Regions from separate parts of the Homo sapiens genome. Here region 1 is linked to region 2. The links come from fine-mapping of genetic effects on gene expression. A gene starts in region 2. The other region holds a variant in brackets. All regions are shown on one strand. Distances are from middle to middle. Region 1 overlaps XXYLT1 (xyloside xylosyltransferase 1). Region 2 holds the start of XXYLT1 (xyloside xylosyltransferase 1).

The links. PIP is the estimated chance that this variant, and not a neighbour inherited with it, causes the effect.
Region 1: its variant is fine-mapped to the expression of XXYLT1 in whole blood (TOPMed, PIP above 0.99).

What each region holds. Positions count from the first base shown.
Region 1 is chr3:195,084,375-195,092,709 of GRCh38, forward strand. The region is part of intron 3 of XXYLT1 (xyloside xylosyltransferase 1); the gene reads right to left. Among named protein-coding and RNA genes, the nearest start is that of XXYLT1-AS1, 6.0 kb to the right of the region's middle. The variant C/A (reference allele first, on the strand shown) is at 3,476.
Region 2 is chr3:195,267,760-195,276,094 of GRCh38, forward strand. XXYLT1 (xyloside xylosyltransferase 1) reads right to left here and starts at 3,400. Exons shown (of 4, transcript NM_152531.5): 1 at 2,796-3,400. The coding sequence starts at 3,299. It overlaps ACAP2 (ArfGAP with coiled-coil, ankyrin repeat and PH domains 2), which reads right to left. Exons shown (of 23, transcript NM_012287.6): 23 at 6,986-8,335. RefSeq lists an enhancer at 2,639-3,430 and silencers at 2,681-2,860, 3,021-3,550, 3,801-4,030.

The sequences.
Region 1 (8,335 bases), 180 kb before region 2:
GACCCAAAATCTTCTCGCTGAAAAAAACCTATAGAGATCACCCAGGAAAATGGAGCATGGAAGCCACCTGGGCAAGGCTGCCCAGCTAGGACATAAAGTCCACCCTCGCTAGGGCACCACAAGACTGCCTGCAGCCTTTCCCACCAGCGAGATGGCAGCCTCAGTGTAATGTATTTCATGCAACCCAGATTTTGAGCAAAGTAAACCGTACTCTTTTCAGAGGTCCAATTCTTTCCCTAAAATACTTAGGTCAGCCCTTGCAGCCTGCTGTTCTTCACTTGCTGTATTTTAGTGAGTTAAACCACCCAAGGATGTTCTAGGCAAAACTCCCACCACTACACACGATCACAGGACTCCATCGGCCCCAGAAACCCAACCCCAGGGATTCATTCATTCAATTAGGCTTCAGGGTCCAGGATGTGAAGAGCACAGTGAATCACACAGACACCCTCATCCTGGAGAGCCCACTCTGATGGCAGGACCATTCTCCATGCTGGGGACAGTACACCTTGGCTCTTGGCAGGGGAGCTTCTCTAATGGTGCCCAAGACAGCAGCTCCTGCCAGTTGCAGAAGCTGAGGGTAGGAAAGGGAGGCCTAGCAAGGCAGCCACTTCCAGACCCTCGAAATGCCAAAAACCTCCAGAGTGTGTGGTTCATCTGAGCAGCCGCAGAGTCTTCACGTGGACGTAACCTTCTCCCAAGCAAGGATGACCCCCATGGGAGTTACAGTGCTCTAAATCCTCTCCTTGCACGAGGTCAAGTAGGAAAAGAAATGATTGCCATATGAAAGTTCAAGTTGGGGACAAAAGGGGCTGAGTGAGGTCCCTGGAGAACAGTTCAGAGGAGCACGGGCTTTGGAGAGAGAATATCTGGATTTGCCCTTTGGCTCAACACCCCTTCCGACCTCTCCAAACCTCTTGGGAATGGTGACTCAGTACCAGTGTCACAGTCCTGGTCCCCACCCCTGGCCCTGCCGCTCCGGCTCCAAGCTGGTTCAGAAAATACGCAACTCACCCAAGGTGTCCAGGTCTGGCATCTCTGCCACTCTCCCATCCCTGGTTCCCTAGAATGGAGCCTCCATCCCCATGTCTAAGCATGCCAGCGCATTTCACCAGAGACCGCGGTGGGAGGGGGGAGTCCACCCAGTTCTACTCGAGAAGCACAGCAGTGCGGTCAGAGAGAAAGGAGCAGGAGCTTAGCTCCTGTGCTCCCTCACAGCTCCAAGAGCCCAGTCATCCTGCGGGCCGCGGTGGGCAGCCGCGAGCCACAACCGTGTCTGGTGACAATCCTAGTAGAGTTCCAGACTGATGCGGCGAGACCACTCCATTCCACCAGGGGCTGGCCCAGAGTTTGGTTCAAAACCGTCAGGTCGCCACTAGCCTCACTGTCCTTCGACTGTGGTGACAGAGCCACTGCTCTGAGCACTCACCTCATACCCAACACAGGAAAGAGGTGCCTCAAAAGCTTGCTGGGCTAGCCTCCTCCCCCACCCCGAGGCTAGCCCCTGAGGCAGCTGCCCCCACTCACCTCTGTCCTCTGTGCTGTCAGGCCTTGCGGAGGCCAACACTCACTATGACTCGGTGGTGCCCGAGCTGCAGAAGACCCAAACTTGACTTTTCAAGCTTCTCTTTCAAGGACTGCCTGGGGCCTGTGGACAGGGGCAGCTGCATTAAAGGCCATTTGTACACACAGAGCACACCTGGGCAAAACAGACCTGGTTTCCAGCACCCCCAAACACCCAGCTTGCCCCCAGCCTGCCCCACAGCTGGCCGCGCTGTGTGCCTCGAAGCCTTACAGCTCAGCACTCTACAGCACTGTCCTTGCTTTTAAATTTTTCTTTTTTTTTAAGGGAAGAAAATCCACAAAACAATCTGTCCTTCTGACAGGCCAGCTCAGATTCCTATCGTGCTAGGTTGGATCAAGGAGCATCATTACGACGGCTTTATCAGAACTGTCTGCTTCAGAAAATAAACAACTTATCAAAGGTAGCCAGGTCTGGCGTCTCGGCCGCTCCCCTACCCCTGCTTCCCTGGAACAGAGGCTGTTTCCCTGTCTCCATGCATGTGAATGCATTTCAGCAGAGACCACAGACCTGTAGGGGAGAAGTCTATCCAGTTGTATTCAACAAACACAGTGGTTAGGGGCAGGGGCTGTGGGGTCAGAGGCCTGACTATGAGCCAGGGCCAGTTTAGGATGGGCCCTGTGAGGAAGGTCAGGGAAGCTGACCTTGCTGCTAAAGGGAACAAAAGGTTTGAAGCGAGGTATGAGGAAGGTCACTCTGGCTGGGTGGGCACTGGCATGGAGGAGGAAGGGCTGGAAGCAGCAAGACCAGGCAGGAGGATGCTTTGGTGATGGGGGGGAGGGTGGCAGTGCCAAGGATGGAGACAAGCAAAGGGTTTAGGAGATACTTAGCAGGTGTATGACTAGCTCTAAGAACGGATGCATGTAGGTGATGAAGGGGGACAAAGAGCTCCGGGTCCTGGCTTCTGTCTTGAGCATTCTGGCTATGGGGTCAGTGGCAGTGGCTGTTCTAATCATGATCAGTGACTTGCATGATGACACTGGCCAGGCCCCTCCCCGATACCTCCCACCTGTACCACAAGGAGGGAGAGTGGCCTCCTAGGCCTTCCCAGCTCCAGGTCGCCTTGGTGGCAGCACTGTGGTCACCTCCTCCTGCCTCGGTGCAGCTTCTCTAAACTCAGGGCAGGCTGCGGGGAGCAGTAAGGGGGCTGGGAGGCACTGCCCGTGTGGCCCGTTGACACGCCACCGTCTCTCCAGGTGGCCTGCAGCAAACCCGCCTTTCCTGCTCCTCTGGACACAGCCGGCCTTGCCCTTGCCAGGCTGCGTGTGGCCCTGGAGCTCCTCTTCCGCCCTCTTCCCGTTTGTACCCACTCTCCAGGGAGACATTTTTCCCCTTTAAACTGGAAATGTGCTCCCTGGCTCCTCCTCAGATCCCTTGTGCTTGAGTTGCTTCTCCAGGCCTTCCAGATAAATCTCTTGAAAATCTGCTGTGCTTGGGGTGCTCCCTGTGAAAGCAGAAAAGCATCTGAGCTACCCTCCCTGTCTCTCCCCACTGCGCGCTCTATTCAGGTATCAACACAGGTATGCCTGGAGCTGGTAGAGCACAGAGACAAGGCAGTCAGGCTCCCTGCACGCAGGGCCTGCAACTTCTCAGCTCTCTCCGGATAGGGCACTGGGGCCTGGGCTTACCCAGAACAGCCAACTGGAATTTGAATGAACATAAAGAGTGGAATTTTTAACAGCCAGATCAAAGCGGGCATTAAAATTAGATGCTACTGGAGGAGCCAAGATGGCCGAATAGGAACAGCTCTGGTGTACAGCTCCCAGCGTGAGCGACGCAGAAGACGGTGATTTCTGCATTTCCATCTGAGGTACCGGGTTCATCTCACTAGGGAGTGCCAGACAGTGGGCGCAGGTCAGTGGGTGCGCGCACCGTGCGCGAGCCGAAGCAGGG[C/A]GAGGCAAAGCCTCACTTGGGAAGCGCAAGGGGTCAGGGAGTTCCCTTTCAAAGGGAGTCAAAGAAAGGGGTGACAGACGCACCTGGAAAATCGGGTCACTCCCACCTGAATACTGCGCTTTTCCAACGGGCTTAAAAAACGGCGCACCACGAGATTACATCCCGCACCTGGCTCGGAGGGTCCTACCCCACGGAGTCTCGCTGATTGCCAGCACAGCGGTCTGAGATCAAACTGCAAGGTGGCAGCGAGGCTGGGGGAGGGGCGCCCGCCATTGCCCAGGCTTGATTAGGTAAACAAAGCAGCCGGGAAGCTCGAACTGGGTGGAGCCCACCACAGCTCAAGGAGGCCTGCCTGCCTCTGTAGGCTCCACCTCTGGGGGCAGGGCACAGACAAACAAAAAGACAGCAGTAACCTCTGCAGACTTAAAGGTCCCTGTCTGACAGCTTTGAAGAGAGCAGTGGTTCTCCCAGCACGCAGCTGGAGATCTGAGAACGGGCAGACTGCCTCCTCAAGTGGGTCCCTGACCCCTGACCCCCGAGCAGCCTAACTGGGAGGCACCCCCCAGCGGGGCACCTCACAGGGCCGGGTACTCCAACAGACCTGCAGCTGAGGGTCCTGTCTGTTAGAAGGAAAACTAACAAACAGAAAGGACATCCACACCAAAAACCCATCTGTACATCACCATCATCAAAGACCAAAAGTAGATAAAACCACAAAGATGGGGAAAAAACAGAACAGAAAAACTGGAAACTCTAAAAAGCAGAGCACCTCTCCTCCTCCAAAGGAACGCAGTTCCTCACCAGCAACAGAACAAAGCTGGATGGAGAATGACTTTGACGAGCTGAGAGAAGAAGGCTTCAGACGATCAAATTACTCTGAGCTACGGGAGGACATTCAAACCAAAGGCAAAGAAGTTGAAAACTTTGAAAAAAATTTAGAAGAATATATAACTAGAATAACCAATACAGAGAAGTGCTTAAAGGAGCTGATGGAGCTGAAAACCAAGGCTCGAGAACTACGTGAAGAATGCAGAAGCCTCAGGAGCCGATGCAATCAACTGGAAGAAAGGGTATCAGCAATGGAAGATGAAATGAATGAAATGAAGCAAGAAGGGAAGTTTAGAGAAAAAACAATAAAAAGAAATGAGCAAAGCCTCCAGGAAATATGGGACTATGTGAAAAGACCAAATCTACGTCTGATTGGTGTACCTGAAAGTGATGGGGAGAATGGAACCAAGTTGGAAAACACTCTGCAGGATATTATCCAGGAGAACTTCCCCAATCTAGCAAGGCAGGCCAACGTTCAGATTCAGGAAATACAGAGAACGCCACAAAGATACTCCTCGAGAAGAGCAACTCCAAGACACATAATTGTCAGATTTACCAAAGTTGAAATGAAGGAAAAAATGTTAAGGGCAGCCAGAGAGAAAGGTCGGGTTACCCACAAAGGGAAGCCCATCAGACTAACAGTGGATCTCTCGGCAGAAACCCTACAAGCCAGAAGAGAGTGGGGGCCAATATTCAACATTCTTAAAGAAAAGGATTTTCAACGCAGAATTTCATATCCAGCCAAACTAAGCTTCATAAGTGAAGGAGAAATAAAATACTTTACAGACAAACAAATGCTGAGAGATTTTGTCACCACCAGGCCTGCCCTAAAAGAGCTCCTGAAGGAAGCGCTAAACATGGAAGGGAACAACCGGTACCAGCCGCTGCAAAATCATGCCAAAATGTAAAGACCATCGAGACTAGGAAGAAACTGCATCAACTAACGAGCACAATAACCAGCTAGCATCATAATGACAGGATCAAATTCACACATAACAATATTAACTTTAAATGTAAATGGACTAAATGCTCCAATTAAAAGACACAGACTGGCAAATTGGATAAAGAGTCAAGACCCATCAGTGTGCTGTATTCAGGAAACCCATCTCACATGCAGAGACACACATAGGCTCAAAATAAAAGGATGGAGGAAGATCTACCAAGCCAATGGAAAACAAAAAAAGGCAGGGGTTGCAATCCTAGTCTCTGATGAAACAGACTTTAAAGCAACAAAGATAAAAAGAGACAAAGAAGGCCATTACATAATGGTAAAGGGATCAATTCAACAAGAAGAGCTAACTATCCTAAATATATATGCACCCAATACAGGAGCACCAAGATTCATAAAGCAAGTCCTGAGTGACCTACAAAGAGACTTAGACTCCCACACATTAATAATGGGAGACTTTAACACCCCACTGTCAACATTAGACAGATCAAGGAGACAGAAAGTCAACAAGGATACCCAGGAATTGAACTCAGCTCTGCACCAAGCGGACCTAATAGACATCTACAGAACTCTCCACCCCAAATCAACAGAATATACATTTTTTTCAGCACCACACCACACCTACTCCAAAATTGACCACATACTTGGAAGTAAAGCTCTCCTCAGCAAATGTAAAAGAACAGAAATTATAACAAACTATCTCTCAGACCACAGTGCAATCAAACTAGAACTCAGGATTAAGAATCTCACTCAAAACCACTCAACTACACGGAAACTGAACAACCTGCTCCTGAATGACTACTGGGTACATAACGAAATGAAGGCAGAAATAAAGATGTTCTTTGAAACCAACAAGAACAAAGACACAACATACCAGAATCTCTGGGACGCATTCAAAGCAGTGTGTAGAGGGACATTTATAGCACTAAATGCCACAAGAGAAAGCAGGAAAGATCCAAAATTGACACCCTAACATCACAATTAAAAGAACTAGAAAAGCAAGAGCAAACACATTCAAAAGCTAGCAGAAGGCAAGAAATAACTAAAATCAGAGCAGAACTGAAGGAAATAGAGACACAAAAAACCCTTCAAAAAATTAATGAATCCAGGAGCTGGTTTTTTGAAAGGATCAACAAAATTGATAGACCACTAGCAAGACTAATAAAGAAAAAAAGAGAGAAGAATCAAATAGACGCAATAAAAAATGATAAAGGGGATATCACCACCGATCTCACAGAAATACAAACTACCATCAGAGAATACTACAAACACCTCTACACAAATAAACTAGAAAACCTAGAAGAAATGGATAAATTCCTCGACGTATACACTCTCCCAAGACTAAACCAGGAAGAAGTTGAATCTCTGAATAGACCAATAACAGGAGCTGAAATTGTGGCAATAATCAATAGCTTACCAATCAAAAAGAGTCCAGCACCAGATGGATTCACAGCCGAATTCTACCAGAGGTACAAGGAGGAACTGGTACCATTCCTTCTGAAACTATTTCAATCAATAGAAAAAGAGGGAATCCTCCCTAACTCATTTTATGAGGCCAGCATCATTCTGATACCAAAGCCAGGCAGAGACACAACAAAAAAAGAGAATTTTAGACCAATATCCTTGATGAACATTGATGCAAAAATCCTCAATAAAATACTGGCAAAACGAATCCAGCAGCACATCAAAAAGCTTATTCACCATGATCAAGTGGGCTTCATCCCTGGGATGCAAGGCTGGTTCAATATACGCAAATCAATAAATGTAATCCAGCAGGTAAACAGAGCCAAAGACAAAAACCACATGATTATCTCAATAGATGCAGAAAAAGCCTTTGACAAAATTCAACAACCCTTCATGCTAAAAACTCTCAATAAATTAGGTATTGATGGGATGTATTTCAAAATAATAAGAGCTATCTATGACAAACCCACAGCCAATATCATACTGAATGGGCAAAAACTGGAAGCATTCCCTTTGAAAACTGGCACAAGACAGGGATGCCCTCTCTCACCACTCCTATTCAACATAGTGTTGGAAGTTCTGGCCAGGGCAATTAGGCAGGAGAAGGAAATAAAGGGTATTCAATTAGGAAAAGAGGAAGTCAAATTGTCCCTGTTTGCAGACGACATGATTGTATATCTAGAAAACCCCATTGTCTCAGCCCAAAATCTCCTTAAGCTGATAAGCAACTTCAGCAAAGTCTCAGGATACAAAATCAATGTACAAAAATCACAAGCATTCTTATACACCAACAACAGACAAACAGAGAGCCAAATCATGAGTGAACTCCCATTCACAATTGCTTCAAAGAGAATAAAATACCTAGGAATCCAACTTACAAGGGATGTGAAGGACCTCTTCAAGGAGAACTACAAACCTCTGCTCAAGGAAATAAAAGAGGATACAAACAAATGGAAGAACATGCCATGCTCATGGGTAGGAAGAATCAATATCGTGAAAATGGCCATACTGCCCAAGGTAATTTACAGATTCAATGCCATCCCCATCAAGCTACCAATGACTTTCTTCACAGAATTGGAAAAAACTACTTTAAAGTTCATCTGGAACCAAAAAAGAGCCCGCATCGCCAAGTCAATCCTAAGCCAAAAGAACAAAGCTGGAGGCATCACACTACCTGACTTCAAACTATATTACAAGGCTACAGTAACCAAAACAGCATGGTACTGGTACCAAAACAGAGATATAGGCCAACGGAACAGAACAGAGCCCTCAGAAATAACGCCGCATGTCTACAACTATCTGATCTTTGACAAACCTGACAAAAACAAGTAATGGGGAACGGATTCCCTATTTAATAAATGGTGCTGGGAAAACTGGCTAGCCATATGTAGAAAGCTGAAACTGGATCCCTTCCTTACACCTTATACAAAAATCAATTCAAGATGGATTAAAGACTTAAACGTTAGACCTAAAACCATAAAAACCCTAGAAGAAAACCTAGGCATTACCATTCAGGACATAGGCATGGGCAAGGACTTCATGTCTAAAACACCAAAAGCAATGGCAACAAAAGACAAAATTGACAAATGGGATCTAATTAAACTAAAGAGCTTCTGCAC
Region 2 (8,335 bases):
CCAAGGAAAGAACACCAAAGCCGAGACCTGAAAGCTGAGTACCAAGGATGGAGGCAGGGAGAACTCCAGACAGAGGAAAGGCATGTGACATATGTTCTTTTCAGGAATATTCCAAACCTGAGGAAGAATTAAATCACAAGTAAAATGAAGCAAACCTTTTAGAATCGCACATTTAAAGGAAAAAAAGAGCACTTTTCATCACAAACAGAAAAATTTACAAAATATGAACTCAAAAATCATGGGAATGCCAGGTGCAGTGGTGTGTGCCTGTAATCCCAGCTATGCAGGAGGCTAAGGCAAGAGAATTGCTTGAGCTCAGGAGTTCAAGACCAGCCTGGGCAACATAGCAAGAATTCTTATCAAAAACAAAACAAAACAAAGTAACGGAGGCCAGGCGCGGTGGTTCACGCCTGTAATTCCAGCACTTTGAGAGGCCAAGGTGGGTGGATCACCTGAGGTCAGGAATTTGAGACCAGCCTGGCCAACATGATGAAACCCCATCTCTACTAAAAATACAAAAAATTAGCCGGGCGTGGTGGCGGGCGCCTGTAATCCCAGCTACTCAGGAGGCTGGGCCAGGAGAATCACTTGAACCTTGGAGGCAGAGGTTGCAGTGAGCCGAGATCACACTGTTGCACTCCAGCCTGGGCGACAAGAGCAAAACTCTGTCTCAAAAAAAAAAAAACAAAAAATTTAGCCAGCGTGGTGGTGGGCACCTGTAATTCCAGCTACTCGAGAGGCTGAGGCAGAATCGCTCGAACCCAGGAGGCAGAGGTTGCAGTGAGCTGAGATCGTGCCACTGCACTCCAGCCTAGGCAACAAGAGCGAAACTCCATCTCACAAAAAAAAAAAAGAAGTAACGGGAGCAATTTTATGCCAGGACTGATAACCCCTTATCCAATCACTGACATCTGGCTAGAAGTCCCCAGACACTAAACCCTCACCCCTCAACAGAGGAGGTATCAGTTCCCTCTGGTCATTTGCAGCTGCCTCCAGGCCTTGAGTGAGGCTGCCAGAACTGGGCCCAGTAAAGTGGGGTAGTCCGAGCATGAAACACTTACTCCAAGACAGGAGGGGCTCGGCCCTGAGGCTGGATCTACCCCTGGGCCAATATTTCTGGTGCCAACTAAGAGTGCCAGGCATTGTACATAGGGATGGATGATAAGACATGATACAGTCACAGCACCAGGGAAGTAGAAAAGGAAAGAAGGGACGCTTCCTTGGCTCCAAGGAGGGGATGGTATCTGAAGATGGGCAAGACTTGGAGATGGAGAGAAGGAGCACCCCAACAGTGGGAATGACAAAAGCAAAGGCAAGTAGGCTGGAAAGCACTGGCTGTGCAGCTAGCGCTGCAGCGGGAGCTGGGGACAAGGGGACAGAGATCCGGCAACGGTGCAGAGTAGGCCCAGAAGAGATGACAATGCTATCTTCAAGGCGGTGTTTGGAGACCTGGTCAAATCCCAAGATCTGCCCAGACTGACCCTATGGCCAAGGGCCCTCAGTTTTCTACCGTGAACTAGTGCAAAGTTTCTCAAATATTAGGGTCATTAGGATCACCTGGGACAGGTTGCCAGGCTCCTCCTCCAGCGAGGACCTTCAGAGGTCCCAGGGTCTAGGGACTTTCTCAGGAGAGGTGAAAGCTGAGTAAAGAATGGCCAAGGGCCCAAGAGGACACTGTGGGCAGACAGTACAGCATGTATAAGGCCCACTCCCTACATAGCTAAGGTATGAGGTGCATGTAGACAAAGGAGGAGAGGTGAAGCCAGAGAAGTGGACCAGGCTCACAACACAACAGCCCTACCAATAAACTGGGACTTCACCCCGTAGGCAACAAGGAGCTATCAGAGACTCCCGAAGCCTGTAGGATCCTGGCAACAGCTCCCCTAGTCACTCACATAATACAACTCCTGTCTCAGCATGCTTCCCCAACCAACATCAGTCTCCACCCTTTAATATTACCTACTACTCCTTAAAATCTGGCCTCGGATCCCCTCTGTACAACTATTAGGTCAAAATCAAATAAGCAATTTGACCTAGGCAATTCACACTATGTCAGAAACACATCTCAGACAAGGAGAGCCAGGCAGTGAAGACAGATGATAAACAGAGATGGAAGCTGTCATGGAGGCAGACTGGTCCAGCCTGGGACAAGGCGGCCAGCTGTGCTCTCCCCAGATCATATCTGTTCCTCTTGAGCTTTCTCTTCCTCATTCGGAGGAACTCCAGGCTTCTCTAAATGGGTTCATGACCCTTGGAGGAAGGGGAAAAAGGGACACAGAGAGGAGATAAGATGGTTCACAATGAGTTTGACCAGATCCTACTGAAATACCTTAAGAGCAATGAGAAGTGTCACTGCAACTTCAACACTTCCAGAGGCCTCACCAAGGCCCTCTCCAGTTGCTCAGGATGACTACTGGTGACCAGTCCCATCCTCAGAAGTCAAAAACTGAGGAACATAAACAGAGGTGCAGACTCTGAAGGCAGTGCTGAACCCTGCAACGTTAGCAAAATGGGGGCGCGCGGACTCTCCTGGGGGCTGCGCTTAACTGGGGGAGAGGAAAACGAGGCGGTCATTAAAAACGCAGCTCCACTCCTCAGCACCAGCTGAGGGCGTCTGGCTCCCGGACACGCCCCCGAACGAGCCCTCCCGCAGGTTGTGAACACTACATTGCAAGCGGGCAGCTCAGGGAAGATCCTACCCGCTAGTTCCCCGGATCCCCTCCGGGAGCGCAAACTGACCTCGCCTAGGATGGGGTGGGCCACCCACCGGGAGCCCCCAGCCGCGGCCCGCTCACCTTGCACTTGAAGCCAGCGGCGGGCGGCAGGAGCTCCCGCAGCAGGCCCTTGGCCACCTCGCGGCTGGCCTCCTCGCTCACGAAGTGAAGGTTAAGCACCTCGTGCGCCTCGAACTTGGCGAGGCGCAGCAGTGAGCGCAGCGCGACGCGGGCCTTGGCCTGCAGCGCGGCATTGTGCTCCGCCTTGGTGAACATCATCAGCAGGTGGTAGTCCACCGGCCCGGCACCGCCGCCCTCCAAGCTCTTGGCCTTCGCGCCGGGGGCTGGCGCCACGGAGCCCCGCGCTAGCTCCAGCGCGGGCGGCGAGGGCGCGGCGGGAGCCCCGGCGCGGGCCTCCTTCAGCCTCTTGGTGGCGCTGGAGAAGGTCTCCCGGCCTGAGCCGAGGTAGTAGAAGGCGCAGACGGCCAGCGCCGCGGCCAGCAGCAGGGCGCAGTAGTGGGAGCGCACAGCGCCCAGGCGCGCCATGGCCCGAGCGCATGGGAGCCCGCCTCGGAGGAGGCCCATGCGCTACGAGACCGCGGCGCCAGCGGTGCCAGCAACGCGGGAGAGCCCTCGGGTACCCGGACGCCGGCGGCCACTTAGCCCCGGCGCCAGGCGGCGGCCATGAAAGGGGCGGGGCCGCGCCGCCTGGAGCCAATCGCGGGCGCCGGTGCGCGGAGGGGCGGGGCCGGGCGTGCCGAAACCGCTGGGTCCTAGGTTCCAAGGGTATTAGAGGAGGGGTTAGGGTGGGATCCGGCGCCCGGCGTTGGGAGGGGGGGATTCCGGACTCCAGCGTGCTGAGGGCTGGCCCGCTGTCCCGGCTGAGAAATGGCGCCCTACGCGGCGAGCCCCAGAGGATATCCAAGCTGAGTGTTGAAGGGAATGGAGGCGCCCGAACAGAGGAACTTAGGTTAGCCAAAAGCGAAGCTGGAGGCACCAAGAGGTAAAACTTTAATCTCTGCACCTTTTTTCCCTCAATTTCTTGGAGGCTTTAAGCCGTCTCGGCCTCTCCCTGCACACGAGCTGCAGCTAGGCAATTTAAACCGGCAGCTCCTCCCTTTTCCCCCGCCCTGGGAGGAAATGGCCCGGGCCGCACGTCGCGCCGGAGGCCGAGCGGAGGGAGGCTGGAGGATGTGGCCAGCAGGGGGCCCCCGCCGCCCGCACGAACCTGCGAGGCTGCTCCCCGAGCCCCAGCACCGCAAAGCCCTGGAGGGCGACATTCATCCACTTTTGTTTTATAAACAGACTTTTAACACTTTATCAAGAGCCTCCTTGAGGGTACCAGGGAGTTTTGCACGCCGAGGTCACGTGCCCAAAGTCACACAGCTAGCCAGTAGCAATTTTGACCCTAGGCAGTTGCACACTGCTAACTAGATAAAAACGTACTAACTTCAGTCTTCTAAGAATTGAGGCTATACCAGTAGTTTTTAAGTAAACACGTGCAAGTGCTGTGCATGCTGTCTAAATAGACAAAGAACTTGAGTAAGTACAGTAACCCTTCAGTTCTTTGGCCAAGTTCTCTGATTTCTGACCAGAGATTAGGTAAACGGTTTTTCCTGTTATTTCCACATTGTAAGGTTGCATGGATTATCCAACCTCTCTGCTTCAGACCTTGGCTTACATGTCACTACCTACACAAATGATCTCTAAATACCTCCTATCCAGTGTCTGGGCTAAGTGCCATCCTCAATAATTCTGTGAGGGCCACCTAAATATATGTACTACCCTAGTCTCATCTTTCTTCATTGCAAGAACACGTGACTCCAAGAGAACAGAATATACATTTGTTTTTTATTAACCACAATATACCCAGTACCTAACACGGTGCCTACCACATTGGATGAGTCTCAAAAATATACTCAACCATTGAAACAGCATTTTTATTTCTAGAAAATCTTCCTAATAATTTAAGAATGTTCAAAATATTTAACCATAAGAATAAAGCAAGGCCAAGCATGGTGGCTTAGGCCGGGAATGGTGGCTCACGCCTGTAATCCTAGCACTTTGGGAGGCCGAGGAGGGCAGATCACCTTAGGCCAGGAGTTCGAGACCAGCCTGCCCAACATGGCGAAACCCCGTCTCTACTAAAAATACAAAAAATTAGCCAGACATGGTGGCGGGCGCCTGTAATCCCAGCTACTCAGGAGGCTGAGGCAGAAGAATCGCTTGAACCTGGGAGGTGGAGGTTGCAGTGAGCCGAGATCATAACACTGCACTCCAGCCTGGGCGACAAGAGCAAAACTCTGTCTCAAAAAAAAAAAAAAAGTAGGCAGTGTGGTGGCGGACACCTGCAATTCCAGCTACTCGAGAGGCTGAGGCAAGAGAATCGCTTGAACCTAGGAGGCAGAGGATGCAGTGAGCCGAGATCATAACACTGCACTCCAGCCTGGGCGACAAGAGCAAAACCCTGTCTCAAAAAAAAAAAAAAAGTAGGCAGTGTGGTGGCGGACACCTGCAATTCCAGCTACTCGAGAGGCTGAGGCAAGAGAATCGCTTGAACCTAGGAGGCAGAGGATGCAGTGAGCCGAGATTGTGCCTCTGTACTCTAGCCTGGCGAAAGAGAGCGAGACCCTGTCTCAAAAAACAAACATAAAAATAAAGCAAAGCTAGGTTCATGATGGCAAAAAATCAGAATCAAATGGTCATCAATAAAGTGGTTAAAGCTAAAATAATGCAGTCATTAAAAGTGATGTTTTCAACAAACTGCAGGTGGAAATTTAAAAAACTAACAAATGGGTGAGGTGGCTCATACCCGTACTCCAAGCTATGTGGGAGACTGAGGTGGGAGGATCACTTGAGCTCAGGGGTCCAAGGCTGCAGTGAGCTACGATCGCCACAGGACTCCAGCCTGGATGACAGTGCGAGACCCCAATTCCAAAAAAAAAATAGTAATGGTAACAAATGGAAAAAAAAACCTACAGAGACTAAGAAACATATTCACCAACTGCAACGTATGGAACTTATGTGAATTCTGATTTGCACGATCTATTTTAAAAATCGTATTTGAGAAACCAATTTGAATATTGATTATGTAGTTTTACAGTTTAAGAAGTGTTACGATTTTTTAAAGTCCTCAACTTTTAGATGTACATACGGAATGATTTGCTGGTGAAAGGTCTAGGATCTGGTTCCAAAAAGTCCAGGAAAGGGGAAAAATGGGTAGGAGAACAAATATAAGCCATGAGCTTATAGCTATTGATTTTCTCTACCTGTACATGCTTGAAATTTCCCATAAAGTTCTCCCCATCTATTAAGTGAAAGAAGTGGGTAACTGTATGATCCCATTATATAAATGTATGAATACACACACCCAAAGGTCTAGAAGGGTATACACAAAAAAGTAACAGTATCTCCCTCAGTGCTATCCAGTAGAACTTCCTGTGACAATGTATATATTCTACAATCTCCCCTGTTCAAAACAATAGTCACTAGCCACATGGGGCTATAAAGTTCTTAAAATGTAGCAGTACGACTGAGGAAATGAACTCTTTGTCTAATTCCAATTAAGTAGCCACATGTAGCTAGTGAGTTCCATTTTGGACAGCACAAGATAATGGAATTGTGGATGATTCTCTTGCTTCTTCTTAACATTTCTCCACAAGCAAAAAGCTTTGTGTTTGCAATAATTGAAAAATTAAACTGTTTTCACTTAAAATATTTATAGACTATTGATGTGGGTTCTCCACAGAACTATTCTGAAAATGAAATGAAGCTGAATAAAGCAAGTTATATTGAAAAGTTTATGTGTCTGCTTTCAATTAGCTTTTTTTTTTTTAAAGCAAATGCAGGTGATACACTTCCAGTTTGGTTTTTTCAACCTTCCATTCCTTCAGTCCCAATTCACTGACAAACGTGTGTGTGTCTGTTTACTAAAAGGATAAAATGGGAATGTGCTGCATAGATTAGGAACATTAATGTCAATCATAATGGAAAAAACTTAGAGCAAGCCCCTCCCCCCACCCCCCAAAAAAAACCTTTTATCTTTTTGCCAATGAATTAGGGGCTATAACAGCTCTGTGAACAAAGAGAATTATATACTTAAAAGATCCAAATGGATTTCTTGATTGAAGTAATCAGCAAATAGGATGAATGTGGATTTGAAAGGGCTGGGAAGAAATACCTTAAAAATAATAGTACCTTAAAAATAACTGCTGTTGACAGATATGTTCACAGTGTATTTCACAAGAAAATGTAAATCACCATGAAAGAACTAAGCCAGAGGTGAGATCTTTATTGACTTATTGTAATTTTTTGGCATACAAATTACTTAAGTATATTTACAATTCTTACATAATGTACATTTTAGAAGATAATGTACTTTGCTCCATTTACAATGACAAACTACTGTAAAACTACATTCATGAATTAGATACAAATCCTCTACATACTAATAAAAAGTAAATGGACTGTTGGTTATACATTCTTTAAAATATACCTTTTCACAGGTAGCAAGAAATAGTACATGTAATAAGTCTTTATGACTGGAATGATCCAGAAATATCACAAAGCATGAGTAAACACATATATAAAAGTAGCTCATCATTTCCAAAAGTTAACCTTTAGCCTTTGTGTAAAATAAATGGTGCCAACAATCTTTATAATGTAGCAAGCTTTCCCTGTTTAATATCCAAAAAATGGAGGGTGGGGAGGTTGAAGAAAAATAAGAAAAGTTAGCAAATAAGATAGTGAAAAGACCAATGCAGAGAAAAGTTTATGTAATCAAATCTTGCTTTGTCTCCACATTATCACATTTTAAGTGGATAAATTTATGTAAACAGAAAAAGATGTCCACAAAACCATATCTGTAGATGTCATTTGGAAGCATCAAGAAATTGATAAGTATGTGGTGAATTAAAATTACTTTTATAATGTTTTGCTTTCATTAATGTTTGTTATTGCAAAAATGTAAGATTTCCTACAATTTTGTCTTCAAATCCCAATCTAGCCCTTCAAACTTTTATCCAGGTTCTCCAGAATATTTGGAGTCTTTGTTATCAAAGCACAAGGAAAGCTGGCATTCATTATCAGACTTCGCTGCTTTACAATGATTTCAAATCATTTCATGATACAAATAAAGTGCCTCTGACTGGTGGTCAGTCAGACCTGGGTAATGGTGCCAATTCTGCCACCAGCTAGCAAATCAAGTGACCCTGCTCTGTAAAACAAAAGGAGCACCCTAGGATCAAAAAAGTAGACAACTTTGGAGCTTAGATTAAGATCTCAGAAATCCTACCATGAGAATCCAGTGAGATAAAGCAATGCCAAGTACACTGTAAGTAGCAAAACAGTATACAAAGGGATGCTTCTATATTTTCACCTTGTTTCATTACACTCATTTTAATTGTGAGGAGCCCTGAATCCAAAAAGGGTAGTGACGACTAGTCCAGTGCTCCTTCCACCGTATCATGCGGTTCTAAAGTCATTCTGGACATACAATCTACAAAAATACATCATTTTTCCAGCTCATGTCCATGATCCAAAGTGATATTATACACAAGTGTTATCTGACAATATAAGAATGATCTGGGAATGTCTGTTCAAAACGGTAGTAAATTTAGTCT